Linked DNA regions of Homo sapiens: regions 1, 2, 3, 4, 5 and 6 are each linked to region 7. A link means that fine-mapping ties the variant in region 7 to the plasma level of a protein whose gene starts in the linked region. Region 7 holds a variant in brackets. A gene starts in each other region. All regions are shown on their forward strands.

Region 1 (4,078 bases), not on the chromosome of region 7:
CAATGCGCTTTAGCAAGCTTTCTCTGGAAGCAGGCAGCCTGCGCTCAAATTCCGTCTCCCCTAATTATGAGTGTGTGGCCTTGAGCAAGTTACCTGGCCTTTTTACAGCTTGGTTTCTTCATCTGTAAAATGAGGGTAGCCAACAAGGATGGCTGGGCAGCCAATAGGCTTGTTGTGAAGAACAAACGAATTACCAAGATAGTACATATAAAGTGTTCATATAACAAGGACTATTAGCTGTTTTTAATAAGAGAGCCCTGAAGTTTCATTCTACTAAATATCTGGTGATTGGTAACCTAGTGGTAGAGTCCAGTAAAGGGAATCAAGGTGCCATCCAGCTGCGCCAGATGTGCACAGGAACAGTATTGCAGTATTTGGTTAAGTCTAAAAGAGTTTAGAAAATAACCCCTCCCCACCTGCCTTACTTGAGCAATAGTTTGGCTTAGCCCACCTCTTTCATTTCTCTAACTTAAGTGATTATCAGCCTGAGGCTGGCCAAGATGGGTATGCATACAGTATAATTGGTTTGTAAAGTTTCAAAAAAGACAGAGAACTCTAACCACGTATTTCAGGATTTGGTGGTTCTTCTAGACACCAGCCTCCTTCAAACCTCTGGTGTTGTAGGCTAGAAGGGACTTAGGAACCATCTAGTATTCTCTTTCCAGAGCTAAAGACGTGGAAGCCCTGGATAAGGAGTAAGTTGTCTGAGGCCACCCAGCTAGTCAGTTCAAAACCAGGACCAGCTCTCCCGTGGCCTGGTGTTCAGGGTAGTGCTCACTCTTGACCACTGGCTGGCTCTTTGATTTTCTGATCTCCAGCTAACTGTGGGGCCTGTCTGCAGTGGATCCCATGCTTCAGGGTGCATAGTGACGTGCCCTTGGCTCTCCCTGACTGCCTTTCCTGCCCTGGCTCCTCAGACATTTCCAGTCACTCCGGTGGGCTCCTACCACCCACATCCCTGATGTCCTCTCCTGCAAACCTGCCTCTGCCTCAGGGCCTCTGAGGCCCCAAGAGTCCTGCCTGGGGGACCCCAGGAAGGGACGCTCAGGAGGACTCTTCCCTTTGCTCTGGAGCCTGTTTCAGGAAAAAGTGGTGCTTGCTCTATTTCCCTCTGTTCTGGTTCCTCTGCTGCGTTTTTTCCAAGTCTTCTTCACTCTCTGTGCTCGGACTCCCCCAGCCTTGCTCTTCTGTTTTACATTCCTGTTCTCCTCTTTTTCTCTCTCCTTCCCAACCCTTCCCCTTTCCCCTTTTCCTTCCTTCCCTGTGTGACTTGGGGCATTTGCATCTTCCTGGTGCTCCTTGGGCCCTGCCCTTTTTCCCTCTCCCCTTTCCTCTCCAACCCTGCCTATCCCCCACTCTGCTCACCCTTTAACACATCTGTTTCTAATCTGAGCCTCGGAGGCGCCTGTTTGAAACAACAACAAAAAACCCCCACCCTCAGGAACCTGGCACAAAAATTCCTGGATAAACCTTCCCTCCACCAATTCTCCACTTTTCCCAGATACACCAGAAACTAAACACCGCCCTAAAGAGGACCCTGCACATCAAACGGTTCCCCAAGCCTGTTCAAGGGCCCAGATGTGCGAGACAATCTCGATGGCCGACTGGGCGGCCCTCGGTTGCCAGATGTGCTCCTCCGTGGCCAGGAGGCAGGGACTGAAAAGCCGGCTGACTCCAGGGGCTGCAGGGACACCCGGTCAGAACCGGCGTCTTTCCCGGACGCAGGGCTGCGTTTGCCCACGGCCATCCAAACTCCCGCCCTCCCAGAGGCACTCACCTAGCAAGAGGAGAAGGAGGAGGGACATCCCGATCCCCGGACGCGGGCGCTTCCCCGCTCAGCTGCTGCTTGGCTCCGGGGCGGCCGGGCGCCTCCGACGGACCTCGGGCGAGCTGGGCGCGGCGCCTCGGGGTGCGCGCGAGGTGGCTGCAGCCATGTGCCGGGCGGGAGCCGGCCCCGCGCCCCGTGCCCCTGGGGGCAGATGGGCTCCCGGCGCTCGCCCCACCAGCTGGCGCCCGGACGGGAGCCGGGACCAGGGTCAGGGAGGAAAACGCGAGGCGAAAAGGCGCTACCGCTTCGTGGAACACTTTTCCCTGTTTGGAAAGAAAAAGGAGTGAAGAAAGAGAGAGGGAAAAAAAAAATTCAGCTGGAACCACATGGTTGCCTCCTACCGCAGCCCCTCCCTCTCTCTCTCGCTGTTCCCTCCTTCCCTCCCTCCCTCCCGCGCGGCGTTTGGGGTTTGCGGTGGGGGCCGGTCGGGGAGAAGCGTGAGCTGGCCGGGCAGGGAGGGCCGGGGGAGACCTGGGGCCGTGCAGAGGCGGGTGGGTTGAGAGGCGCCGGGCGTAGGATTGATTCTTTGCAGGAGGCATTGGTGACACCTCGGCTGAGAGCCCATGGACGAGGCCTTGTCCGTTCCTAGAGCTCTGCTCTCACTTGGTCCTTCTCTCCACTTCTCTCTCGCTTCTTTTTTACTCTCGTTTCTCTCTGCTTCCACGTCTCTCACAAATCTGGCGTTTCTCTCTTCCATCTCTTCCTCTCTAGGTCTCCTTGTTCGCATTCTTGCCTCTCCCTCCTCGTCTCCTCATGCCCTCTCCCCTCTGTCCTCTGCGCTCTTCTCGCCTCTCCTCTCCCTCCCCGTCTGGTTCTGTTAGTGTAAAGCCACCAGACTGACCAGGCCGACGGCGGGGCGCGGAAGTGGGTGCGAAGGCAGCCAGCGGCCGGCCGACCAGGGCTCTCCCCACCGACTGCCTGCTTTGGCACCCGGCTACCCCCCTTGGCCTGGCTTTCCTGGGGCCTTTCGCGTTCGCTCGCTTTCTACTGTCGGTATTTGCAGCAGCGCTCCCTCAGGTCCCGAGCAGAGCTAAGCCAGCCAGCACCCAGGGGAAGGGGACCCACAGCCCCGTGGAAAGAGGTCTATCGAGATGCTTTGCAGCAAAGTGCTCTGCACGTGGCCCTGGCCAAAATGTGCACCACCCCCTTTCAGAAAGAACATAAGGCAGAGGGAGCAGAATCCCCCTGGTGCCAGGGCCTGCGCGCCCGGGCTCCGGGAACCCGGCCCAGGAGGCTCGCGGAGGGCAGGAGGCTGGCGGCCGGACGGGGGCGGACGGTGGGTTCCGCGGAGCCGAGCAGCCCCGCCCCAGGGTCGGCCCCTGGGAGTCTGCCCTTCACTACCCTGCTGCTCAGCGGCAGCGGGAGGCAGCGAGACTAAGAAAGGGCAGTGAGGGTGGCGCTCAGACCTCAGCTGCCTGGACCTCCTGCCCTGACCTTGTGCCCAGGGCCTCTCAGAAACTCTGGTCCCAGTCTCTGAATGTCCCTGGAGGGCTTCTCCCTCAGCTGCCCAGAGGCATGATGACGCAATCGCTCACCTTCGGCCTCGCCAGAGCCCAGGTTGGAAGCCGGGGCCAGCGCTCTTGAGAAGAAAGATGAACCCCGCCGGGGCCGGTGGGCTGCCGAGTCACACATTTGCAATGAAATGCAAATGTGTAATGAAAACCCGTCCCATTTCGCAGACTAGGAAAGCAAAGGCCTGGAGAGGTTATGGAAGTTTCACAAGGTCACTCAGAGGACTTGCAAAAGCTGGGGCTGTTCCTAGGGCTCGCGGATCAGCTGGAGCATTGCTTTAGAATTGCAGCATTTCTCCACTCACTCCCTCACCCCTTCGATACCGATGTGTTAGCATCCACACTATGCCAGGTGCTTTTTTAGGTGTGAGGACACAAAGTGAGTAGAACTTGGAAGTTGACATTTAAAAAAACCTGGGAGGAGTATGTCATGAACACCAAGTATGGACCCAGAATCATATTATATTATTACGTGGTTTTTATTGGGTCATATTATTGACCTTTTTATATCATTCTTATTATACTGCTAAGGGATAGTCACTGAAAAAAAAATCACCATCCCTTAGCATGAATAGGAAGACAAGGAAACTATAACTTAGAGAGGCCTAAATATCTTGCCCCAGATCACAATAGAATTAAAATGCTTCTATTCCAATATTAATATTCTAATATTTAAAAATATTATTTTTTATATTGAGAAGTGTTTAAAAGGTCTCTTTGACTCCGAAGTAACTTTATT
Region 2 (4,078 bases), not on the chromosome of region 7:
CCACCACGCCCGGCCACCAAGAAATTCTTGTTTAATTTTGCCTAATACTAGTATCATTTTTTTGGATTACACATATAATGCATGCTATTACAATTTGGTTATAGAAGTATATAATGAGAGATTATTTTTCCCCCATAATCCCAAAGGCATATATCACTCCAGAAATTTGTGTTTAAAAATTAGGATATGTCTATTTTACTCTTTCCTTATCTCATAGAATGTTTTGAATTAAAGTGTTTATTTCAAAATAAAATACTTAGGCCAGATGTGGTGGCTAACGCCTATAATCCCAGCACTTTGGGAGACTGAGGTGGGAGAATCACTTGAGCCCAGGAGGTCGAGGTTGCAGTGAATCAAGATTGCCCAACTAGGCCAGGCGCGGTGACTCACGCCTATAATTCCAGCACTTTGGGAGGCCGAGGCAGGTGGATCACAAGGTCAGGAGTTCAAGATCAGCTTGGCCAAGATGGGGAAACCTTGTCTCTACTAAAAATACAAAAAAATTAGCTGGTAGTGGTGGCAGGTACCTGTAATCCCAGCTACTTGGGAGACTGAGGCAGAGAATTGCTTGAACCCAGGAGGCGGAGGCTGCAGTGAGCCGAGATCACGCCACTGAACTCTAGCCTGGGCGACAGAGTGAGACTCTGTCTCAAAAAAAAAAAGATTGCCCTACTGCACTCCAGAGTGAGACCTCATGAAGAGAGAGAGAGAGAGAGAGAGAGGAAAGAAAGAAAGAAAGAAAGAAAGAAAGAAAGAAAGAAAGAAAGAAAGAAAGAAAGAAAGAAAGAAAGAAAGAAAGAGAATTGAATGTGGCTGAAAAAAATCGGAAGGCACAAAAAAATACAATAAGGATTAACTCTCCCTCCACCTCCCACCCTCTGCCCCCATCCCACATTACCCACTGTCACTATTTCCTATATACATGTGTCTATGCATATACATCTAACCACACCCTTTTTGTTTAAACACAAAGGGCAGCCTGTGACACACTGTGCTGCATCTTGCCTTGTTCATTTAGCCATGAATGTTGTAATTCACAGCAGTTAAGCAATTTCTTTGGCCTAAAACTTTATTCTGGTCCTGCTCACTAGTTAACTCATAGCCATACAACGGTACCCAAAGAACATCTACATTAATCCACCACCACCATCCCCTCCCCTTCCCCTACCCCATTCTCTGGCTTCTAACCCCCCTCTACTCCCTTCTTCCCGCCCAGGGCACCTACTCACTTACCTGCCAGATGTAGGATGAGGCTTAAGATGACCACTTGAGGATGCATTATGGGATCAGCCTGAAGGAAAATGAGCAGACAGGCTGGTTGGTACCCTCCACCAGATGGTATCTGATCAAGTCTTAAATCTCAGATTGCAACTTATCTTTTCACCCAGTTGGTTGATTCATATGAGCCTGCTCTGCTGGAAATGAGAGAAGACCACATATAACGGCTTCAGAGCTCTGTTAGTTCCCTGCAGCTGAGAGCTCTGTGCCTTCCAAAGGACAGGGAAAGCTGTCCACAGAAACAGCCCCTGACTTCCCAGCTTCTTCCCCACACATAACCGCCAAACTGACTCCTGGTCCTGATACAGGGTATCAGGGGAACAAACAAAAAGGAAACAGGGCCGGGCGCGGTGGCTCAAACCTGTAATCCTAGCACTTTGGGAGGCCAAGGCGGGCAGATCACGAAGTCAGGAGATCGAGACCATCCTGGCTAAAAGGGTGAAACCCCGTCTCTACTAAAAATACAAAAAATTAGCCGGGCGTGGTCACTGGCGCCTGTAGTCCCAGCTACTCGGGAGGCTGAGGCAGGAGAATGGCGTGAACCCGCGGGAGGCGGAGCTTGCGGTGAGCCGAGATCGCGCCACTGCACTCCAGCCTGGGCGACAGAGCAAGACTCCGTCTCAAAAAACAAAACAAAAAAAAAGAAAAGAAAAGGAAACTGGAAGCAGAGAACCAGCGTGGCTCAATGGCAGCACGAGAGCAAATGCCAGCCTTCCAGTGGCAGAGATGCACTTGCTTTTCAGAGTAAACTGGGCCTCTGGTGGACGTGGAGCTTTTCCTACTCAGTGGCCACAACGACTTATCCCTAGCCTTAACAGTCATATTGCCAAGTTTGCCATTAGCAAGAGAAATTGAGAGTGAATGTGAATCACTGTGCCTAACCTTTCATGCTCCTGTACAACATGCTTCAGACTACACCTCCTTACCAAGGGACTTCAAGAGAATGCTTCAGGAAACAGAAGTCTGGAGCAGACTTACGTTCAGATCCAGGCTCTGTCACTCACAATGCTGGGTAACCCTGAGAGTTCCTGAGTTCTCTTCAAACCTCTATTTCCTCAGTTGTAAAATAGCACTAAAAATGCTTCCTCTATCTCCCACCAAGGATTGATATAATAAGCAAAAAGGGCCACGGAAGAACTTGGAAAACTAAACCTACATCATATGCAGTAATAGCACTAGCTGAGGTTTTTGGAGAATACTATATAGCAGGCTCTGTGTCAAGCACCCACATGCGTTAAATCGGGCTGTTGACTTCTGCTGTTAATCATTAAACCATACAAACATGAGTAAGCTTGCCTAGTACTTCATTAACTCCTCTTCTGGTCTAAGAATTCAGTAACTTCCAAGGAGGCAGTGGTGGTCTGTATCTTGCAGCTCATGACAGGGTTCATGGGGAAGTGGATGATCTCAGCATAGTGTTTTGTATGGCAGCGTTTAAAAATTCATTTCTTGACCGGGCATGGTGGCTCGTGCCTGTAACCCCAGCACTTTGGGAGGCCGAGTAGGCCAGTCACCTGAGGTCGGGAGTTCAAGACCAGCCTGGCTAACACGGTGAAACCCCGACTCTACTAAAAATACAAAAATTAGCTGGGGGTGGTGGCGGGCGCCTGTAATCCCAGCTACTTAGGAGGCTGAGGTAGAAGAATTGCTTGAACCTGGAAGGTGGAGGTTGCAGTGAGCCGAGATCAAGCCATTGCACTCTAGCCTGGACAACAAGAACAAAACTCCATCTCAAAAATAAAAATAAAAATTCATTTCTTGCCAGGCACAGTGGCTCACGCCTGTAATCCCAACACTTTGGGAGGCCAAGGCAAGTGGATCACCTGAGGTAAGGAGTTTGAGACCAACCTGGGCAACATAGCAAGACTCCCTCTCTGCAAAAAAAACGAACAAAAAATATAGTCAGGCCTTGTGTACCTGACCGTAGTCCCAGCTACTCAGGAGGCTGAGGCAGGAGGGTTGCTTGAGCCCAGCAGTTGGAGGCTATGATTGTGCCACTGCACACCAGCCGGGGTGACAGAGCAAGACCCTGTTTCTTAAGGAAAAAAAGATTGAAAAAAAAAAGCTAATTCAATTCAACCAGTTATTACTAACATATTGAGCTGATGGGACATGACTCAATATACTAGGGACGTCAAAAATCCAGACTTGTGCAATCGGGCAGGGACATGGGTAAGTAAGCAACTAATGAAATCAGGATAAGTGAGGTAAAGGTAAATATATAATCAGACTACATCATTCCCCCACTTATAACCCTCTCATAACTCTCTCAGAAAAATAATAATAATAATAATAATAATAATTCCTAAATCTTTACTCAAATTACTGAAGCCCTGGTGGTCTGGCCCTGACCTACCCCATAGATTTCTTCTACCACTCTCTCCCCTGCTGACTCAGCCCCAGCTACTAGAGCTTTCTTTCCAACTTGCCTCAACCCTAAGGCCTTTTCCGTGGCTGTGTTCTCCATCTAGCTCCCCAGCCCCACCATTTTCACTTTTTTCCTTTTCATTTTTATCCCGGCTTAAATATGACCTCCCTGGACATTTTTCACAGGTCCTTCAATCTAAAGTAGCCAACCAGTCCCTCTCACTATTATTATCTTGTTTTCCTTAATCCATTTTATCTGTGTGTGCAATATATGTGGTGTCTGTCTCTATTCCCTCCTATAGAGTGCTGCCCGGTAGAATTTTAGTAATGGAGTTATTCTGGTAACGGAGTTATTCTGGAACTGATGAGCCACAGAGAGCCAAGACAGGGATGTGGAGCCAGTGCTCTGAGATGTTACATAACTGTACAATTC
Region 3 (4,078 bases), not on the chromosome of region 7:
CTTCATACGTCTCTCTGTCTATAGTGTCCCCAGCCTCTCAAACACCCTCACTCCCGATTCCTTATTATGTGGAAGATGTTAAAATTAACTCAACTCCACAGTTGCTCCTTCTGTTAAGCCTTTCCTGAACTCCTCTACTTAATTAGGTAAAAATTAAGCCGAGAGCTTGGTTAAGCTCTCGGCTGTACTGTACATGCTTCTGCCATAACACCTTATTATACTTACTCCTTAGTTGAGAATTGTATTAGACTTTCAATTTCCTTATGAACAGGGACCATATCACATTGGACATTATATCCTCAGTACTAGGATAACATGACCCCAAACATAAGTTTGTGAAAAATGTATGAGGTTGTTGTTTTTCATTTTCACTATCTTAATTGTTTGGCATTTTTACTATCTTAATTGTTTGGCATTTTTAAACACAAACATAGTTGTTACGTCAATTGTTATTGACAAAAGTCTAGAAATTAAATGAATGTGTGTGTGATTTATTTTTATTAATTCTAAAAAATAAAAGTTGCCAGCTCTTAATGGTATCACATCATTATGTTGAATCTGAATCCTCCACATTGCCGAAAATTTCTGAGTGATTTCTGCTGTTATTTTTATCAGCGAAGGTATATCAGATATGTTTATCTAAGAAATAATTATACTTCTATGATGGTATTCCCCTAAATGTTTGTATTACCATAAAAAGATGAAAACAAGATCTCATATATGTTGCCTAAGATAACTATTTCCAGATGATTTCTTCCAAGACAATTCTTTGTAATCTCCACTTCTACTGTTTCAATATCCATTTCTTACAAAGAAGCTCCCAGATGTTGCAGCTAGTGTTTTATCTTGCTCCACCTCCCTCTCCACCCTTCAACCTCAGCAGAACTTATTTGTACATGCTGTTCTTAATTATGCTGATCTCTAGTCCTTGACAGAGTTCCTGGCTCCAGTCAAAGGTGGAAAATGAAGTTATATACAAGCTACTCAAAACCACAGCCGTAAAAATGGACTCTTCGTAAGTTTTTTTGGAGGAAAACGCTTTGTATCCTATTACACATATCCTGTGGCTACAAAAGCTGACATCCCTACTTTTGTCACTTAGCTTCATTTCAAAGAGGTTGGAAATCCCCAATGTCCCTTAACAGCTTACTGGGTAGTTTAGTTAAAAAAAAAAAAAGCCATATTAGTAGGTTTCAGGTGGAGGGTCATTTAATAAATAGAAATAAATAGAAAGTGAATGGAGGGTTTAGTAGGAGAAAGGAAGGAAAACTAAAAGTTATTTGATAAAGAAATAAGGAACAGGATAGTTTTTTTTTTTTAAAGGTATATCCAGATTTACAAAGGTGAAGAAAACAATGATATAATCAGAAGGGAAAGGGCATATTAAAACACAGGCACTGAATGAATGTTAAAATGTGGGATTCCTTTCAACATTCCATTTCTTAAGAACCTAAAGTGTTCCTTTCAGCAATTTTGTGTCAGTCTATATCAGATCAGACAGACATTCAAATATTTTACATAATTTATCATTCTCAGTACTCACAACCACCTTGTAAAGGAAGTTTTATTACTTCTATTTAATATTAAGTCAAGTTAATATGAATTAATATACTTAAAGTATTTAAAACACTGCCAGCACATAATGAGCCCTTTATACATGTTTGTGGCCGTTAATATTTTATAAATAAAGAATATGATGCTACCAGGATACTTAAACAACTCATCCAAAGTTACACAGAAGGAAAGTGGCATACCTGGTTTAGGACCTAGAACCTAGTCCTGTGTATATTACCATGTGAGTCCTTTTCACTAGAACTGAAGTCATATTTTAGCTTTAGATTGGCTGAGTGGCCCAGGAAATAAAATCCTTCTCTAAGTGTGGGAATTATGGAACTGAATATAACTGAAAAAAAAAAATCACTACTATGTCACAGGGCGAGTAATTGGAAATAAAATTATAAGATGCAAGCTAAATATCTCCATTTCTAGGAGGGATAGATCATCTCACACATTTCACAAGGACTGTGGTCTATTTGGACTCCAGGAGACAGGGTACCTGTGCGCCGGGGCTCTGGATGCCGAGTTGTGGCAGAGCCTTGAGAATGCAGGCTCATGGTGGTGTCCCCATCATCATCCAGCATGTCCCTCGTGCTGCTGTACTTGGCCTGCATCTGGATTCCTACAGCGGTGAGAGTGAAATGTGGTCGGATTGCCCTGGGCCGCCGGGCTACTGTGAGCTAGTTCAGGAAGCAAGGCACTAAAAGGCATTCCTAATGTTCTTTCCCAGCGAGGGGCAGGGAAAGTCTCTGACTGCAATTCCTGACTGGACAGGCCCAGCCCCTCTCCTGTGAGCTTGTACTCTGAATGCCAAATCAGTCAGGCTGAGGGGAAATAGCATGTGTTTTCTGTTTAGGCCGTCTCAGTCTAAACAGTTGTCAAAAAGTTGGCCTTTCTCAGGTCTTTTTTGTTTACCTGTTTGCATTTCTCATGTAACTTCACTGTAAAGAAGGCAAGAACTTACAATAGCACGGTGTAGCACTGTGGTTCCTTCAGAGTCTGCAGAATAATAATAACTTGGAAGGACACACATCCCTGTTTCTTACCCATCCTTTAGGGAGTCACTTAGTTTAACCTCTCTGTGTCTTTGTGAAAAGAGAAGAGATTATAGGACCTAGCCCCTTCCTTTCTCCAAGAACAGAGTAGTGGTCTTTCTTATAGTATCTGAACTTGATTCAACATTTTATAGCACATTTGGTACATTATGATCACGAGGAATTATACAATTTACTGGAAGTAAAAACTTTTAAAACTATTACTAACCACCATGTGGTTTGGGGAAGCCAGTTCATTTGTGCCTAAATCTCCTAAACTGAGAAGAAAATGTTTTAGGTAATGTGAAAAAATTCTTCCTGAATCAGTACATTAGAATTATATTCCCATCTTAGTCTGTTTGTGCTGACCTACAACAGGATACCTGAGACCAGATAAATTATAAGCAATAGAAATGTATTTCTCAGCATTCCAGAAGGTGGGAAATCTAAGATCAAGGCACTGGCAGGTTTGGATGTCAGGTGAGAGCTGCACTCTCTGTAGAGGAGGAAGGGTATTCTCACGTGGCAGAAAGCAGAAGGTCAAGCCAGCCAAATGCTACATGTAGCGTCTTTTATAAAGGCCTTAATACCATCCTCAAGAGAGAAGACTTCAAGGACTAATCATCTCTTAAAGGCCCCACCTCTCTCAATACTACCACACTGGCAACACCTGAATTCTGCAGGAAACACATTCAAACCATAACAAGACAGGTATCAGTAACAACCTTGTGCCTTTGGGAGGACAATTAACAATTTGCATCTACATTTCCTAAACTGAAAGACAAGAAGATTGTTTTAGATAATGTCTAAAAGTTCTTCCTGAATCTGTACAATAGACTTATATTACTCTACCAAAACTTTTCCAGATGTTAGGTGATAGGTGGGCAAAATCAAGCATGCTAAATATAAAGGAGTGTCAGAATGCTCCAGTTGGGGTAGCCAGACCATATAAAAGATCTATGAGGAAGTGCACATTGTGGATTCACATGTGTTTCAAGCTGTTTGTTGTTCATCAAATTATTCTAAATTTTTTAAAAATTGGAATTTTTTTTTTTTTAGATGGCAGATTGGAGGCAGTGTTAGCATGACTCTACCACTTGGAAGGACAAAATAGTGAGTAAAAAATTCTCACTGTGGGCCAGCCATGGTGGTCACGCCTTTAATCCCAGCACTTTGGGAGGCTGAGGTGGGTGGATCACCTGAGGTCAGGAGTTCGAGACCAGCCTGACCAACATGGCAAAACCCCGTTTCTACTGAAAATATGAAAATTAGCCGGGCGTGGTGGCGGGTGCCTATAATACCAGCTACTGGGGAGGCTGAGGTAGGAGAATCACTTGAATCCGGGAGGCGGAGGTTGCAGTGAGCCAAGATCACACCACTGCACTCCAGCCTGGGCAACAGAGCGAGACTCCATCTGAAAAAAAAAAAAAAAAAAAAAAACCTTCTCACTGTGAACTCTTTTCCCAAGAAGCAACACAGGAACTGAA
Region 4 (4,078 bases), not on the chromosome of region 7:
ATTTTAATATTGGCTATTTTGTTGTAAACAAAATGAATGTAAGAGGAGTTTACAAGTTTGTTCATATCTTTACCAGATCATGGTTTTGTGATAGATAAGCTAAGTTATATGTATACAATTTTCTGTTAGCTTAGACATCAATTGTAGAAAATACCATTGTTCACAAGATCATATTGATGATTTTGTTTCCAGTTTTTTAGAGCCCAATAATGGCTTAGTTATGAAAACATTTTAGCATACGTATATACCTATTTAAATGATTCACGTTTACCAGAGTACTTAATTTATTGAAAGAAACATCTTGAAAGGCATTTGAGAGGATACTTCCAAAATATTTATTATAAATACATGTTTACTATAAGTAATTTTATTCATAAAATAATGAGGTTCAAATAAAAATACATTATGCACTCTTGTTTATATTATTTCAGGATTAATGTAGCTTTGGTAATCAACTTTCAACATTGGCATTTGAAATAATAATCTTAAAAACCTTACTGAACTTATTTTTTTTGAAGCCACAATACTGAAATAGTCTTAACATGTGGATTATATGCTCATCTTTAAAATCATTATCTTGGAACTGCACTTTGCTGTAAAGTTGAAGCAGACTACTCATTGCAGTTGTTTAAACCACAGCCTAAGAAGTGCTACCCTTTGCTTAACTATTCAGCTTCAGTTTGAATGACATAGTTATTGCCTTTGAGTGAGACCCAAAGGATTCTTTTCCCAGGTAGCAGCTCTTTCAAGTAGTAAAGATGTTTCAACAGCTCTACTATTCTATATGGGGTTTGATTTAAAATTGAATTTTCTGAAATCCAAATAATTAGAACATTATTTTTCCCCTGATAGCTATCATTAAAATCTCTCAAGTTAAAATGTCTTTTCTGTTGAATTCAGGCTAGAGCATTGACACATGCAGGTGACTATATGTAATTTAAGCAATTCAACTAGTTGGGATACAGAAAAAATGAAATACTTGTCCCAGACAAAATCTTTAGCAACATATTGAACATCCTCTTTAAATCAAATTATAGCAATAACAATAACAATTTACAAAGTTATGAGTATTTTCATCATGTATTCAAAATGATCATTTCTCTGTAATTCATGGTCACAGCCAAATTACAACCCAAGATAATATTTTGCCCTGGAAAAAGGAAGAATCCAGTGTTCAGGAAAATCCTAAGTTAACATCTTAGAACTAAAATTAGGAGATAATAATGTAAGCTCTTTCAAATATACAAGTTCAGAAAAGAATTTTATGTGGTTAGTTAATTCAGAGCTCTTGTAAGATAAATATCAAAGAAAAAAAACCTAGTTCCAAAATGGGTTGCCTTTATGACTAACATGCTTGACAGCCTTTGTATCATTGGAAACCTACTGTTAAGAATATTAAACATATAAATTATACCCCTGGCTTCGTATCTGGCTCTTAGTGGCAGAAATAATAAATTTTGGAAAGAAACAAGATATTGGGCTTGGTTAACTTTACATTAATCTGTGTATTGACACTAAAATCCTTAACTTTTTCACTCTTTTTTATATGATTATCTAAGTAACATTCTGGTTAGTAAATATCCAACATCAAGTAGTATAAAGCATAGACCCGATCATGTATATACACATATGTAGTGTCCTTACATTGGCTGATGAGCAGCAGGTTGCTATTCAGTTATCCTATCGACATAAGCTTGCCAAACAGTCTTTTTCTTCTCAGCTAGGAATTAAAAGAAGAGCATGCAATTTGGAACTTTCCAATAAATCAAAGAGAAAAGCAGCCTTACCTCTTTTTGTTTATATGGCAGAGGAGCTCCACAGCATATTCCTCCCCGTTCTCCGGGCGAGCTTCTCGGGCCGTTTCAGCACACGGACAGCTCCTCTGCTTATAGGGAGCCGCTGCGCCTGACTCCGCACTGCCACACTGACGTCACCGGGTTCAGCCACAAACCCCAGCACAAGCGAGGTTTTTCAAAGAACCAAGAGAAAATAATCACTTTATATTTAAAAAAAAAAAAAAAGAAAGAAAGAAAAGAAAAGAAAAAAAAGTTGCATGCTTACGCCACCTGTCTTTTTGTGGCAAAAATTGCAGTTTTCCTTTTTCTTTTATCAAAATCTTTGAGACGGAATAAACTGCTCTGCACGATTTCTCTTACAAAGAAAGAAATGTGTGTCAGACAGACATGGCTAATTGCAAGACAATCTCATCTATGTTCTAGCAACTTGTTATAATAGTTTCTTGGTGTCACTGTTGTAATTGTTGTCGTCGTTGTAAGAAAGTTTTACAGACAAGGATTATTTTTTCATCTTTGCCCACAAAGAAATTACATTACCATTTCCTGTTATAACCAAGATGAATGGAGGACACATTATAAATATGAAAGGCCATATTTCTTATCATGACCACAGCCATCATTCTTTTAAAATCATATTTATTTGAATAAAACAGAGAGTTCTCTCTCTTTTATATGAGAGCCAACTTTAATAGCTTATATAGTTTTTTAAATGGGTATTTATCAGACTTCAAGCTTAGTAGCTAATAATTCTTTATATCTCTGTTACTGTCTTTCACAATATCTGATCTCAGAAAGGGAAGCTCAGAAGTTGAGTGCTGATGAAAATACTTTCATCTACTTAAAAAAAAAGTCTTTTCACTGTTTGGGAAAAATGTGACACATACGTAACTAGAATTCATTTGCAATCGAAAGGAAGTTGTACTATAAATATTTCCCTTCTCCTGTTGAATCAGATGAGTTGAATACCTTCCATGAATGTGAACAATCCAGGGAATAATACAGCAATTAACTTTCAACCTCTCAGATTTATAATTCATAATCATTCCTCTGCCTTACCAGATAACCTGATTATATATTTCAATAATTTATATGGATATAAATTTTAAACTTTATTTTATTAAAGATATGAGTTTCTAAAAACTGTATATGTTGACATATACTTTAAGAATGCAACAGAATCTTGCCATATAAGAGATCCCATGTGTTTCTGCTAAATGAACAATCAGCCACTGACTCAATAAATTGTAATACCTACTAGGTGCCAGATACATTGCTAAATGCACAATTGTTAACTAATACAAAAATAAGTGATTTTTTTGCCTTTGATGAGCCTTTCAGCTAATGGGGATGACATGCAAATAAACACATAATTTTCATATAAATTGGAAAGCATCAATAGAGAGGTTAGCTAGCAGTGTTTGGACCATTTGGATAGCCAATGGGTTCAACCTAGAAATTCAGGGGGAAACAATGTCCTGGAATAAAAGGCCTAAGCTGAGATTTCTCACTATCAGGTTTTCTTACAAGGATTTCTAACTATGTTAGTACTTTTGAATTCCTCGAAAAAATAGGAAATGGCTTAAAGTCTTACAGAAAAAATCTTGGAAAAATGTGCCTCGATTCTCCCTATTTGGTTTTCCTAAACGACTAGGAGATCATCATTTGTGGATTGATATGAATTCATATACACTCAGACTGGGGTTATATGTCCAATTCATCCAACAAATTTTGCCTCATAGTGGTTTTTTAGGGCATGATCAAATGCTGGGTTGAAGAGACCTAAATATGACCCATTTCTCAAGCATCATCTCAATGACACCAGCTCATTCACTGACATCCTTAGCTAAGATTGCCTTAAATCTTAACAAAGCCCTGGCTAGCTGCTCCAAGTTTGACCTAATTTTCTGTCCAGCAGTTCTGTGTGACCAGTTCAACTAACCAGTATCAACGCAGCTTTAGAAAACTCTGCAATTATTCTTAAAATGTTGAGTTTGTTCAGCATAGGTCTCAAAAGCCCTCCAGAAAGTCATCCTGACTAGGCTAATTCATTTATGTGGAACTAAACTTTTTGGCAAGAACCAGAAGCTACGGTTCTTCTAAAGCCCCAGAGTCAACATCTTGCCTGGAAATATCTTCAATCATCCAAAAGACATGCAAAACCTCATTCAAAATCTCCAAGTAGATGTGAGATGCCAGGAGGCTGTTGCTGGGATGGATTGGCTCCACTAGGCTCAAGATGTGGGTAGAACAATAAGCCATTGTGGGCTATTGAATTTCTGCCT
Region 5 (4,073 bases), not on the chromosome of region 7:
GGCTGTGAAAGAGTGCTTTCTTGCGGGTCAGCCCCGACAGGACAGACTTAAGGGCGGGAGGGAGCCCATCCCGCTTGCCCCAACGAACGCGGGCGCGGGGCTTTCCTCGCAGGTTACATAAGGCAGCCGCGGGTGGAGGCAGCAGAGGCGAGCGCACGTCCGTCGAGGGGGAAAGGGGCGTGGGGAGGCGGCCGGGGCGGCCGGTATCCCCCGGGCGTGAGTGCGCAGCGCGCGGGGGAGCGCAGGGCGCGGCGGAGTCGGGTTTCAGAGCGCGGGTGACTCGGGGCGCGGGCCGGGAGCCGGGATTCTGCCCGCCGCCGCCGCTGCCGAGCGCCGCCTTTGTTCCCTGCAGGAAGGGCGAGCGCGGCGGCCAGCGCTCAGCGACCCTTCGTCCTCCGCTAAGCTCCAACGCTCTGCTCGACTAGCCGCGCGCCTTCCGGGGCTCCGCAGACCCGCGAGATGGCACCAAGGTAAGACCCGCTTCTCTGCTTCCTCGCGTCCCGGGCCCCTCCAATACTCTTGCCCGCCTCACCTTTTCTCCCTCGGGCACATCTTGCAGGAGGAACAACGGGCAGTGCTGGTGTCTGCTGATGCTGCTCTCGGTCTCCACGCCCCTCCCTGCTGTCACCCAGACCCGCGGTGCGACAGGTAAGCAACCCGGTCGGAGGGTGGCACCGGCTGCCTCCGCGCCCGTGGGGGAAGTCGGTTTTGGCGGCGGACGCGGCTGCGATGCGTGCCTCATTCCTGGACATAAAAGGGAGTCTTGCCACTCAGTGCGCACTGGCGGTCCCGCGGGCGGCTACCTCCTGGCAGTGCAGGGGTTATAGCTGTGAATGGGATCCCTGGGCAGCTGGGGCGGTTGGAGCGTTGTCTGGGCACCCGAGATGTCTGAGCTGGGTGCGGAGCCTCCAATCTTAGGCAGAGAGGGACTTCAGAAACAGCGCCAGCGCCAGCGCCAACAGCCTCAGCGCACCCAGCGCCAGCAGCTTAGGTTGTGCGTGCTGGCTGGCTTCTGGTAAGGGCAGGTCTGGTGCCTCTCCGCACACAGGTGCGAAGCATGAACACCGGGAGGGACATCTGGGGCTTTTGCTGCTCAAGAAATAACGGAACTGAATTGCTCGGTTGCTTAACCCAGCTCTGAGTTACCTAAGCGGTCACGTCTATCATGGGCAGTGGCTCCACCGGTGGTGGAAAGAGCTGTGGCCTGGAAGCCAGAGATCTGATCCCTTCCGTTCCCCGGGCCTCAGTTTCTCCAGCAGAACTCAGGCGGTTGGCTGAATAGTAAGATATAAGTTAAAGTAGACCTAAGTTAAAATGGGCCTCGGTTAAGGTCAGACTGCCTGGGTTTGAACTGTGGCTGGCTGAGTGATCTTGGGCAATGGATTTCATCGCTCTGTGCCTCAGTTTCCCCATCTGAAAAAGGCGATTAATTAGACCATTTTACCTTCCTAGAAATGTTGTGAATATTAGAGAAATTAGAAATAATGTGCTTCCCATGATTCCAGTATATACTAGGCACAAAATAAGTGATAGAAATTACTGCTTGATTCTTGCAGTAACTATGTGTTGGAAAGCAATGCAAGTATTTTTATTTTTATTTTAGATTCAGGGAGTGGTCATGTGTGGTTTTTTACAAGGGTATATTGCACGGTGCTGAGGTTTGGGCTTCTATTAATCCCATCGCAATGCAGGTATTTTTATAACATTGAGGTTGAGAGAAGCTTAGAAAGTGGCCAGTCCAAAAGCCAGGACTTGAATCCAGGTCTGTAGGCTCTTGCCCTTGCTCAGCTCTTTCTCCATGCAGTTTTGCAGAAGAGCCATGCTTTCTATAGCTTCTGACCCCCTCCCCTTTGAATTTGGGGGATTAGTACACATCTTCAATTGAATAAGGGAACAGAAAGTCTAGGAAACAACCTCTAGTCGGCCCAAAGGAAACGGGATTGAGAAGGTGGCCTTGGTTAACTCTTTGTTTGCCTGAAGAAGCCCAAGACAGCCCATTGTCTCCTGGGCAACAAGACCCAAATCCGATGATAGCTTTTCCTGCCAGAGTGTCCAGCCTGGCATTTATTGCAGATCAAAGGGCAGCTGGAGTATAGTTTTAGCTTCTCAGCCCCATGGCTCATGTCAGAAAGTTGCAATTTTGCATATGATATAGGGCCCTGCCAACTCAGTGGCAGAGGCCAACTTTGGGTTCCATGGTCTTTTGTGAACTTTGCTGCAACTTCCAGTTTCCCAAAAGGAAGATGGATCTGGGGATAGGAACTTTGGTGTTTCTTTCTCCTCCTGTGTGTGTCTCTGGGATCCCTCAGTGTCAGGGCTGTTGTTTCTAACACAAAGGAAGCCCTATTCCCATTTATAATGTAAAAAGGGAGGGCCAGCAAACCTTCAGGAGCTGAGAACGGTCTAAGGAGGGCCATTTGCAACTGATGGGTTTTCAGTGCCCCTTTGGGGATGTGAAACGATTCCTAAAAATGTAAACTATCCTCCTGCAAACTGCATTTGTAATGCAATTTAATATCCCTAATACTTATAAAACACTTTGTATATCCAGGTGGAGGTGTGAACATGTTCATATTTCATTCATCCAATCCTTACAACCACTCCAGGAGGTGAGGACTGAGAACAGTTACTATCTCTGTTTTTCAGATGAAGAAACAGAGGTCCAAAGTCACAAGACTTCTAAGTGGCTGGGGTGGGATTTGAACCAGACAGTCTGACTCCAGAGTCCTTGCTCTTAACCATCCTAGTGTGTAGTTAGAAGAGCTTCACGGATGGAGAAGGCTTTAGGGGTTCCATGGTCTCCAATGAGCCCCACAATCTGAATGTCACAATTGTAACATGAGTCCATTGCATGGCATTGTGCAGTCTTCAAAGCACAATGTCACCTTCACCACGTCCCTGGAATCACCACCCAGCAGTGCTGAGAAGTAAATTGGGCTCTGTCTTACAGAGGGGATGTGACTTCCTCAAGGCCGCATGACTGTAACTGGGTAGATCCATAATAGCCCTCTCACGTCTGTGAACTTCTGGGCTGGTGCTGTTCCTTCCATAGGACCACTGCCCAACTGGCTATAAAAAACAATTGCCAAGACTTCATAGCACTATGAACCAGCAGTGTTTTAAGTGCCCTGCCATGAATGAGCTCAGTCAATCATCACAACAACCCCATGTCTTATCCCCTTTTACAGATGAGGAAACTGAGGCACAGTCTTTTGCCCAAGGGCATGTAGCCTTCAGTAATATAAGCACAATTTGAGCCCAGAGGGTCTGACTCCAGAATCTGTACTTGTAACCACTATGCTGTATGCTTAAGTGGGGTGGCTTCTGAAAGCATGTTTGTAAGTGGGCTGTTATGAGCGGAAATACATGTTCCCAACGATTTGGCAGTTTCTTAAAATGTTAAATATATACTTACCCTACAATCTAGAACTTCCACTCCTAAGTATCTACTTAAGGGAAAGGAAAGCATATGGCCACCCAAAAACTCATATGTATGTTCATAGCAGCATTATTTATAATGACCAAAACTGGAAATAAAGTTAAATTCACCATTAGCTGGTGAATAGATAAACAAATGAGGTGTATCCATTTAATGGAATACTACTCAGCAATAAAAAGGAATGAAGTATTGATCAATGCTACAACAACATGGATAAACCTTAATACCATTAAGCTAAGTAAAAGAAGCCAGACATTAAAAAGCAATACATTGTAAGAGTCCCTATATATGAGATTTCTGTAAAGGCAGAACCACAGAGACAGAAAACAGAAGCAGAGATTGACTGCAAAGGGGCATGAGGAAACTTTTTGGGGAGTGTTCTAAAACTGGATTGTGGTGGTAGTTGTGCAACTCTATAAATTTACTAAAATAATCTAACTATACATTTAAAATGGGTGAATTTTATGGAATGTAAGCTATGCCTCAATAAAGCTGCTTCTTAAATAAAAGAATGTATTTTCCCAGAGCATCTAGGCCCCAGATCTGGTGGGGCTTCAAGGTGGGGTTCCTAGCCAGCCTGGTACAGAGCTGGCACACAGCTCACAACTTAAAAGCTGCTGGCCTCTTAGGGCAT
Region 6 (4,000 bases), not on the chromosome of region 7:
GGAAGGCACAGACAGGGCCTGTCCTTGCTGGTCCAACCCACCCCAGCCCCTAGCACCACACGAGGTTCACTGGTTCACTGGCACACAGTAGGTGCATGGCAAATATCTGCCCAAAGAATGAACCTCTGTACTCCCAGTGACTGCCATGGAATGTCGCTCAGTGATGATCTGTTGAATGAACAAGTGAATGAGATGATCTGCCACGGTCCAGGAATGTCTGTGGAAATTCCTCATGCACACAGCAAACAACTCCACCCACCGCCATCCTACCGCACCCGGGCATGGAGGAGCCCCTCATCGGGGGCAGAGCTGGGGGAAGGTCAGGAAAGACTGTTGGGCCTCGGAAAACATCCCACGTGCTAGGTTGGTGCGTTGGGAAAAGTAAAAGTCAGTGCCAGGAGTGCAAGTTCAGGTCAAGACTAGGGAGCTACTGGATGGCCCTGCTGAATATTTTGGGGTGAGAGGCTGAAACAGGAGGACGACAGAGGAGGCTGCCCAGAGTGGGGATGGGGGAGGAGAAGTGCTGGGTGGGTGGGGCAAGAGCAGTGAGGAGCCAGGTCTGGGTGGGGGCTTGACGAGTGACTCAGGAGGGTAGAGGTGCGATGAAGCCAGGAAGGTGAGGCCAGGCAGGCAGTTCCTGGGTAAACACCAGCCTGGTTAGAAAAGTCCCTCTCTTGGCTCAGAGAACAGGGAGGCAGGTATGGGGACTGCCTAGGAGCACCTCGGAGAGAGTGGGGGTGGCTCTGTGGCTCCCCACGGTAGGCTCGGCTCCCCAGATGTGCCCCCACCCACATCTGCCACTAGCTCCCTGCCCACCGACCCCACCCAGTCCTCCTCAAGTTCACTCAGGTCCTCAGGGCCTCTGCTGGCCAAGTGCCTTCTAAGCCTCGGGATTCCTGACCGTAGAATTCCCTTTTCCTCCACCTAAGCTCAGAGTAGGGGACTAGACTGCAAGGGCAGGCCTCTCCCTGCCTCTTGGAGACCTGGGAAGAGGAAAGCTGGGGAACTCGGGTCCCCCAAGGGTGCACTGCATCCCCGCACCACGCACTTTGCAGCTCATTCCACGCAGTCCAGCAACGCCCTGCAGCTATGCATTTTGAGGCCGTGCATTTTGAGTTCCCTTGACCCACGTGGGGCTGGCCTCAGAGAGGTTAACTAGCGTGCCCCAGGTCACACAGTTACTCAGTGAAAGGCAGGGATTGATTCAACTCTTCGGCTGTATGACTCCAAGGCCCGTGGGTGTTCCACACAAGCTTCAGTTCTGTCCCAAAAGTTTTGCTTGTGCCTACCTGGGTCCAAGCTCCCCAAGGTGATAGACGGTGTGGTAAAGTTTCAGCGAGACTCATAGGGTCCCCATCACCACTGAGTGGCCGTTCTGCCAAGCTGGCGCAGAAGGGTTCCCTCGTCCTGCCAAGTTCCCACCCTGCTCAAAGTTTCCCCTCCTGGTCCCCAGGAATGGTAGGCCGGACCATGCCCAGCGAGACTCCAGCACTCGGCAACGTGGCCGAGAGACCCACGGGCTCCCACACGGGCCAGCCCCGCCCCCAGCCCCACGAAGGGTCCTGACTGGTGGCCCCCCTGGATTAGCCCCATGCCGCAGGGTGGCGCCGGCCCGGGGTCCCCGGCGGGCGCCGCCGTCCCGGGCCAGAGTCCCCGCCGCGCAGCCTTGGGCGCCCCAGCCAAGTTGGCGGGAGGCGGCGAGCGGGACCGGGGCGCCCCTAGCCCCTCCGCCCCCGCCCCCCGCCCCTCTGCCCCGCACACTCACCGCCAGCAGCCGCCCGTGCAGCAGCAGCGCCAGCAGCAGCGCGCCCGCCGCCCGCCACCCCATGGCCCGGCCCGCGCCGCTCTCTCGCTCGCTCGCTCCGCGCCGCCCGCTCCGCGCCGCCCGCAGCCGCCCGCTCGCCGGCCAGCTCGGGACAGCGCGGCCCTCTCCCCACCGCCCCCTTTCCTCCCCGCCCGCCCCGCCCCCGCAGCGCCGGCCCCGCCCCCGAACCGCCCCTCCCCGGAGCGCCAGGCCCCGCCCACGGACCGCCCCCGGGCCGCGGGCTCTGCTCGCCCCAGCCGGCCGCGCAGCCTACTAGGCCTTTGTCTGGGCCCCCAGCCCCCTCCGCGCGGGCCGCGGCCCGGCCCGGCTCCCCGCCAAACCCGGCCTGGAGTATGGGATGGGACGGGGCGGGGGACCGGGGGCCCGGGCCCGGGCATGGGATGGGGCCGCCGGGCCAGGCGCTCTCGCCTCCCCGATCCCCGGCTCCCCCGCTTCCCCGCGCGCGCCGCCGACTTCCACGCCCCTGCACGCCCCGCACGGCCGACTCCACTCGCGCAGCTTTTGAAGATCCCGGGATCTCCTTCCCACGCTCACACGCACGCAGCTGCCGCTCCGCGCCACACGTGCACGCCAACTTCCACACCCAAGAACACCTTCACACCATAACTTTACTGCACGAACACACTTGTGCGCTACCCGGGAACACTTTCACACTCTGGACCCAACTCTGAAGTACCAACAATCCTCACCGGCTCACATGCACACTTAACTCGCTTCCAAACTCTCACCTCCACCAGGGACACAGGAGACAGCCCTCACACCACACTCAGCCCCTCACTCACGCATACATCCCAACAAGTCACGGAGCGGGAGGACGCCTTTTCACATAGATTCCTCGCAGGCACGCACATTTCACACACAGGCCCACATCATTGCCTACATGCTTACCAGCTTGTTTTTTTTTTTTTTTTTTTTTTTGAGAAGGAGTCTCGCTCTGTCCCCAGGCTGGAGTGCGGTGGTGGGATCTTGGCTCACTGCAACCTCCGCCTCCGGGTTCAAGCAATTCTCCGGCCTCAGCCTCCTGAATAGCTGGGATTACAGGCGTGCCACCACGCCTGGCTAATTTTTGTATTTTTAATAGAGATGGGGTTTTTACCATGTTGGCCAGGCTGGTCTCGAACTCCTGACCTTGTGATCTGCCCGCCTTGCCCTCCCAAAGTGATGGGATTACAGGCATTGAGCCACCGCACCCAGCCTCAGCCTGTATCTTTTACCTGTTCTCACCCACTAATCACAGTGCCTCATAGTGGGCACTGGGTACTGAACTGAGCTGCCCACCCCACCTGCACCATTTTCCATGTAAATCACTCACACACCAACTTTGAGTCACATAAATCACAGCCCCAGAGCCAGAACCACACCAACTCACACACTCAGGCCCAGACAGACAGACCCTGCCAAAGCCCCATCACAGATGCTCGGGTGGGTGGTAAAATCACAGCCCCATGATCTGTCTCTGACCCAACCGCAGGCAGCAAACAGCACCAAGCCCCCAGACCTATTCACTGCCTACTCTTCAGCTCCCCTCTTCTGCCTGAAATTTCCAGGGCAGCCCGAGGCTGATGGGTGGAGAGGAAAACTATGTGTGTGTAGCTTTGAGGAAAACCTTTTGAGTAATGATAGAGGAGGAGAATAAAACTGAAGTTTCCATTGTTTCCTGTGAGAGTTGCTAGGTTCCAGAAACTCATGGCTGGGTTTGCAGCCAGGAGTGAGGTGAGCTGTGGACAGAAGGAAATGCCCAGCTCACTGGGCGGCACCAGGCCTGGCTCCGGAAGCTATGTTCCCTGTGATAGGGGTCCGCAGGCTCCCAAGCACATTGGGGCCTCTCATCCAGGCATCTGGGGGATTGAAAAAACACTGGCATCCTGACCCCCATCCCAGATAGATCCCCTATCTCCAAAAGATATCTCCAAAATATGCCCTGTGGGGCATATTTCTGTGGGACCAGCTCAGAGTTGTAAAGAACAGAAATTGCATCCACGGTAGTCAGGCCAACTGCCTGGCCCCAACCCAGGCTCCAGGCACAGCACTGAATAAGGTCTATCTCTGATCCGCACAGGGAGATAGGGGTGGACAGAGGAGGGACGCCCAATCTTGGCCCTCAGTAAACTCTTAATCTGATAGAGGTGTGGGGAAGAATAGTCCCTGTCCGGGTATTGTTCTCAGTCTGATAGA
Region 7 (4,078 bases):
CCCAGACAGGCCCCAATGTGTGATGTTCCCCTCCCTGTGTCCATGTGTTCTCATTGTTCAACTCCCACTTATGAGTGAGTGTGTTTGGTTTTCTGTTCCTGTGTTAGTTTGCTGAGAATGATGACTTCCAGCTTCATCCATGTCCCCGCAAAGGACACGATCTCATTCCTTTTTATGGCTTTGTAGTATTCCATTGCCACCTTAACTTGTAACAGATTACATTAGTCTGCCTGTTCCTGAACTTCATATAAATGTTCTTGGCTCTGGTTTCATTATGTTTGTGAGATTCAGCCACAGTTTTTCATGTACTTGAAGATTCATTTCCACTGCTGTGAATATCCCACAACTTATTTGTCCATTCTCTGCTAATGGGCATTTAGTTGCTCTCATTTTAGGGCATTTTTTTTTTTTGAGACAGTTTATCCTTCTGTCACCCAGGCTAGAGTGCAGTGGTGTAGTCGTGGCTTACTGCAGCCTCGATCTCCCAGGCTCAAGCCATCCTCCCACCTCAGCCCCCTGAGTAGCTGGGACTACAGGCATGTACCACCACACCTGGCTAATTTTTATTTTTTGAGACAGAGTCTTGCTCTGTTGCCCAGGCTGGAGTGTAAGGGCTCAATCTTGGCTCACCGTACCTCTGCCTCCCGGGTTCCAGTGATTCTCCTGGCTCAGCCTCCCGAATAGCTGGGACTACAGGCACGTGCCACCACACCCCACTAATTTTTTAGTATCAGTAGAGACAGGGTTTCACCATGTTGGCCAGGCTGGTCTCGAACTCCAGGTGATCCTCCCGCCTCAGCCTCCCAAAGTGCTGGGATTACAGGCATGAGCCACCACGCCCAGCCCACACCTGGCTAATTTTTAAGCAATTTTTAGTAGAGACGAGGTTTTGCTATGTTGCCCAGGCCAGTCTCGAACTCCTGGGCTCAAGCAATTCTCCCACCTTAGCCTCCCAAAATGCTGGGATTCCAGGCATGAGTCACCATGCCCGGCTGGGGCTATTCTGAATGAATTCTTGTGCATGTCTCTGGGGCACACTGTATGCACTTCTGTTGGGTGTATAGCCAGCAGGAGAATTTCTGGTCATAGCAGATGCCATGTTCAACTTTAGTAGATATAGTTAAGGTCATGTTAAAAGCCACAATGAGTCAAACCTATGGAAATTCATGTGAAGCTGATATGGTGGCTTCAAGAGAAGAGAGAAGGAGGAGGCATCATGCCACCCTCAGACCTTGGTACCCCACATCTGCTGTAATTCCCTCCTCTGAGATATCAGCCTCAACACTGAGTTTCTGTACAGTGTTTCCAGCCATCTTTAGGTAAAAATAAGTCACACTTGGAAACAAATGGTTTCTCTTATATGCTTTTGTCTGGCAAAAGTATATTGTAAGTGATCCAAAAGGAATTGATTTACAAAATCTGAAAATATCCAAAAACAAAACCTGCCAAATGAATTTAAATTTCAGGTCATCAGAACCATTGCTCTGATGTCACTTTGTGCCACCCTCTGCCCTTTCCACACTCCAACGTTACAGTTATCTTCCAGAACACTGGCTTCAGCCTTGGCTTGTCCCTCCTGATGGGCTGCCCTTTCCTCAGCTCTTCAAGGGCAGTGCCTTCTTCTGCCTGTTCAATTCTCAGTTGGTTCTTCTTTTCTTTTAGCCAATCACTCTCTGTCTTATGACCTGTTCTATTTTCTTTTCTTTTATTTTCTTTTTCTTTTTTTCTTTTTTTTGAGATGGAGTCTCACTCTGTTGCCCAGGCTGGAGTGCGGTGGTGTGATCTCAGTTCACTGCAACCTCTGCCTCCTGGGTTCAAGCAATTCTCTGTCTCAGCCTCCGGAGTAGCTGAGATTACAGGTGCCCGCCACCACACCCAGCTAATTTTTTGTATTTTTAGTAGAGATGGGGTTTCACCATCTTGGCCAAGCTGGTCTTGAACTCCTGACTTCGTGATCCACTCGCCTTGGCCTCCCAAAGTGCTGGGATTACAGGCGTGAGCCACCGTGCCCAGCCGAGCTACCCTATTTTCTTCATTGAGTCTATCCCTTCTTGAAATTATTAGAATGATTTTTCACTAGCTTGTTCAGTGTGAGCTCCCAGTAAGCTCCTGTAATGCCTGGCACATAGTAGATGCTTAAGAAATCTTTCTAGAATGAATGAATGGGCTGAATGAATCATCAGGGAAGCTGGCTTGAGGAAACTTGATCTTGGGCCATCTTCTTGGGGACGTGTGAGCTCCATTTGCCCCTCTGGCCCCTGTGGGACCGAGGTAGTTATGAACTCTGCAAATTGTTGATTCCTTTGTGCCTGCAGATCAGGCACTGCCCTTGTCAGGGACCTCCTTTGGTGCTTGGCTCTGTGCCAGAGGACACGGTGACAACTGAGGT[G/A]TGAATGCAATGTCAATGATTGACTAGGACCAGCACTGGGCTGCATATTTCCAGGCACAGACTGTGGCTGCATCATTAATAGAGGCCTAGAGGCAACCTGAGTCTCCCTCCTTCCAGAGCAATGGCCATGGCCAAGTCTCCTGCCATCAATCCTTGGAGATTAGATGAGAATGGGACTGGGGCTTTGACCCTGCAAGGACTAAATCCCACCAGTGTCCTAAGAGGAGTTTTCATCAAAGTCACATTGCAGAAGATGCGTAAAGCACTGTCTCCTCTCAGCTCAGAGGAGCCCTGGCAAGTAGGCAGAACTGGCCTTACTCATCCTGTTTAGAAAATGAGAAATTGGGCCGGGTGCGGTGGCTCACACCTGTAATCCCAGCACTTTGGGAGGCCGAGACAGGTGGATCATGAAATCAAGAGATTGAGACCATCCTGGCCAACATGGTGAAACCCCATCTCTACTAAAAATACTAAAAATTAGCTGGGAGTGGTGGCACATGCCTGTAGTCCCAGCTACTCGGGAGGCTAATGCAAGACAATCACTTGAACCCGGGAGGCGGAGGTTGCAGTGAGCCGAGATCGCACCACTGCACTCCAGCCTGGCAAAACAGTGAGACTCCATCTCAAAAAAAAAAAAAAAAAAAAAGAGAAATTGGAAGCCTGGTTGTAAAAGGCTCGTTGAAGTTCCCATGGTTACTGCTCATCCTAAAATCCAGGCATCCTCAATCCCTGTCCCAGCTTCATCCTGGCATTCCCTTTGCCCTTTCTCTGGTTAGAAGTAATACTGAGGAAGCAAGCCCAGCAGAAATATGGGTGGGTACTTTACCCTATGCCCACCTGCAGTGGGTGCTTCCAATTCCATTGTATTCAAAATCTAAAACTTTTATTATTATTATTTTAAAATTTAGAGACAGGATCTCACTCTGTCACCCAGGCTGAAGTGCAGTGGTGCAATCATGGCTCACTGCAGTCACAAATTCCTGGGTTCAAGCAATTCTCCCACCTCAGCCTCCTAAGTAGCTGAGAATACAGGTATCTGCCACCACACCTGGCTAAGTTTTAAGGTTTTTGTAGAGACAGGGTCTTGTTATGTTGACCAGGCTGGTCTCAAACTTCTGGGCACAAGTGATCTTCCCATATCAGCCTCCCAGAGTGTTGGGATTACAGGTTGAGCCACTGCACCTGGCTCAAAAACTATTTGTTAAGAACTTAATTGTTCCAGGCATTGGACTAGAATGAGAAAACTAATAGTCTGATAATAATAATGAACACATCTGCCTCTTGCTTAGAGTACAGCGCAATGTAAAGCGGATTTCAACATACTATAGCCTGTAGTCCAAATCTGGCCTGCTGTTTGACTGTATAAATAAAACTTTATTGGAACACAGTCATTCCCATTTGTTAACACGTGGCTGCCTTCACATTGCATCAGCAGATCTGAGTAGTTACAACAGAGACTGCCTGGCCTGTAGGATCTGGAATATTAATAATCTGGGCCTTTGCAGAAAACATTTGCTGACTCCACCACTACTCACTGGGCAGCTTTGAGGAAGTTATTCTACCTTTCTGTGCCTCAGTTTCTCCATCTGTAAAAGCACCTCTTATATTGGGGTGTTATGACATAGGAGAAGGGTCTAGAACAATGCCTGGAACACAGTATATGCTACAGGTATGTGTCAGGCCGTGTGC

Alleles and levels. Alleles are on the strand shown, and positions count from the first base shown. The strength of an association depends on the size of the effect and on how common the allele is.
As copies of A replace G in region 7, the plasma level of the protein whose gene starts at base 2,113 in region 1 goes down (weak association).
For the plasma level of the protein whose gene starts at base 2,452 in region 2, A is the low allele of the variant in region 7 and G is the other (weak association).
In carriers of allele G in region 7, the plasma level of the protein whose gene starts at base 2,234 in region 3 tends to be higher than with A alone (weak association).
With allele A in place of G in region 7, the plasma level of the protein whose gene starts at base 1,864 in region 4 is lower (weak association).
For the plasma level of the protein whose gene starts at base 305 in region 5, allele A in region 7 goes with a lower level than allele G (weak association).
In carriers of allele A in region 7, the plasma level of the protein whose gene starts at base 1,921 in region 6 tends to be lower than with G alone (weak association).

The links. PIP is the chance, under the fine-mapping model, that this variant and not a neighbour inherited with it causes the effect. Protein levels are from antibody-based Olink assays in UK Biobank. Linkage for the fine-mapping came from a reference panel and not from the study's own genotypes, which makes the PIPs less certain.
Region 1: it holds the start of CLMP, and the variant in region 7 is fine-mapped to the plasma level of the CLMP protein (UK Biobank, PIP above 0.99).
Region 2: it holds the start of HAVCR1, and the variant in region 7 is fine-mapped to the plasma level of the HAVCR1 protein (UK Biobank, PIP above 0.99).
Region 3: CLEC1A starts here. The variant in region 7 is fine-mapped to the plasma level of the CLEC1A protein (UK Biobank, PIP above 0.99).
Region 4: SCG2 starts here. The variant in region 7 is fine-mapped to the plasma level of the SCG2 protein (UK Biobank, PIP 0.97).
Region 5: it holds the start of COL15A1, and the variant in region 7 is fine-mapped to the plasma level of the COL15A1 protein (UK Biobank, PIP 0.97).
Region 6: it holds the start of HSPG2, and the variant in region 7 is fine-mapped to the plasma level of the HSPG2 protein (UK Biobank, PIP above 0.99).

What each region holds. Positions count from the first base shown.
Region 1 is chr11:123,193,136-123,197,213 of GRCh38, forward strand. CLMP (CXADR like cell adhesion molecule) reads right to left here and starts at 2,113. Exons shown (of 7, transcript NM_024769.5): 1 at 1,778-2,113. The coding sequence starts at 1,805.
Region 2 is chr5:157,056,665-157,060,742 of GRCh38, forward strand. It overlaps HAVCR1 (hepatitis A virus cellular receptor 1), which reads right to left and starts at 2,452. Exons shown (of 9, transcript NM_001173393.3): 1 at 2,257-2,452; 2 at 1,234-1,291. The coding sequence starts at 1,279.
Region 3 is chr12:10,096,752-10,100,829 of GRCh38, forward strand. It overlaps CLEC1A (C-type lectin domain family 1 member A), which reads right to left and starts at 2,234. Exons shown (of 6, transcript NM_016511.4): 1 at 2,057-2,234. The coding sequence starts at 2,171.
Region 4 is chr2:223,600,498-223,604,575 of GRCh38, forward strand. SCG2 (secretogranin II) reads right to left here and starts at 1,864. Exons shown (of 2, transcript NM_003469.5): 1 at 1,788-1,864.
Region 5 is chr9:98,943,603-98,947,675 of GRCh38, forward strand. COL15A1 (collagen type XV alpha 1 chain) reads left to right here and starts at 305. Exons shown (of 42, transcript NM_001855.5): 1 at 305-470; 2 at 560-648. The coding sequence starts at 460. It overlaps COL15A1-AS1 (COL15A1 antisense RNA 1), which reads right to left and starts at 1,050. Exons shown (of 1, transcript NR_198999.1): 1 at 1-1,050.
Region 6 is chr1:21,935,390-21,939,389 of GRCh38, forward strand. HSPG2 (heparan sulfate proteoglycan 2) reads right to left here and starts at 1,921. Exons shown (of 97, transcript NM_005529.7): 1 at 1,766-1,921. The coding sequence starts at 1,828. RefSeq lists an enhancer at 371-1,212 and a silencer at 1,960-2,309.
Region 7 is chr16:20,378,621-20,382,698 of GRCh38, forward strand. All of the region lies in intron 3 of PDILT (protein disulfide isomerase like, testis expressed), which reads right to left. Among named protein-coding and RNA genes, the nearest start is that of PDILT, 24 kb to the right of the region's middle. The variant G/A (reference allele first, on the strand shown) is at 2,390.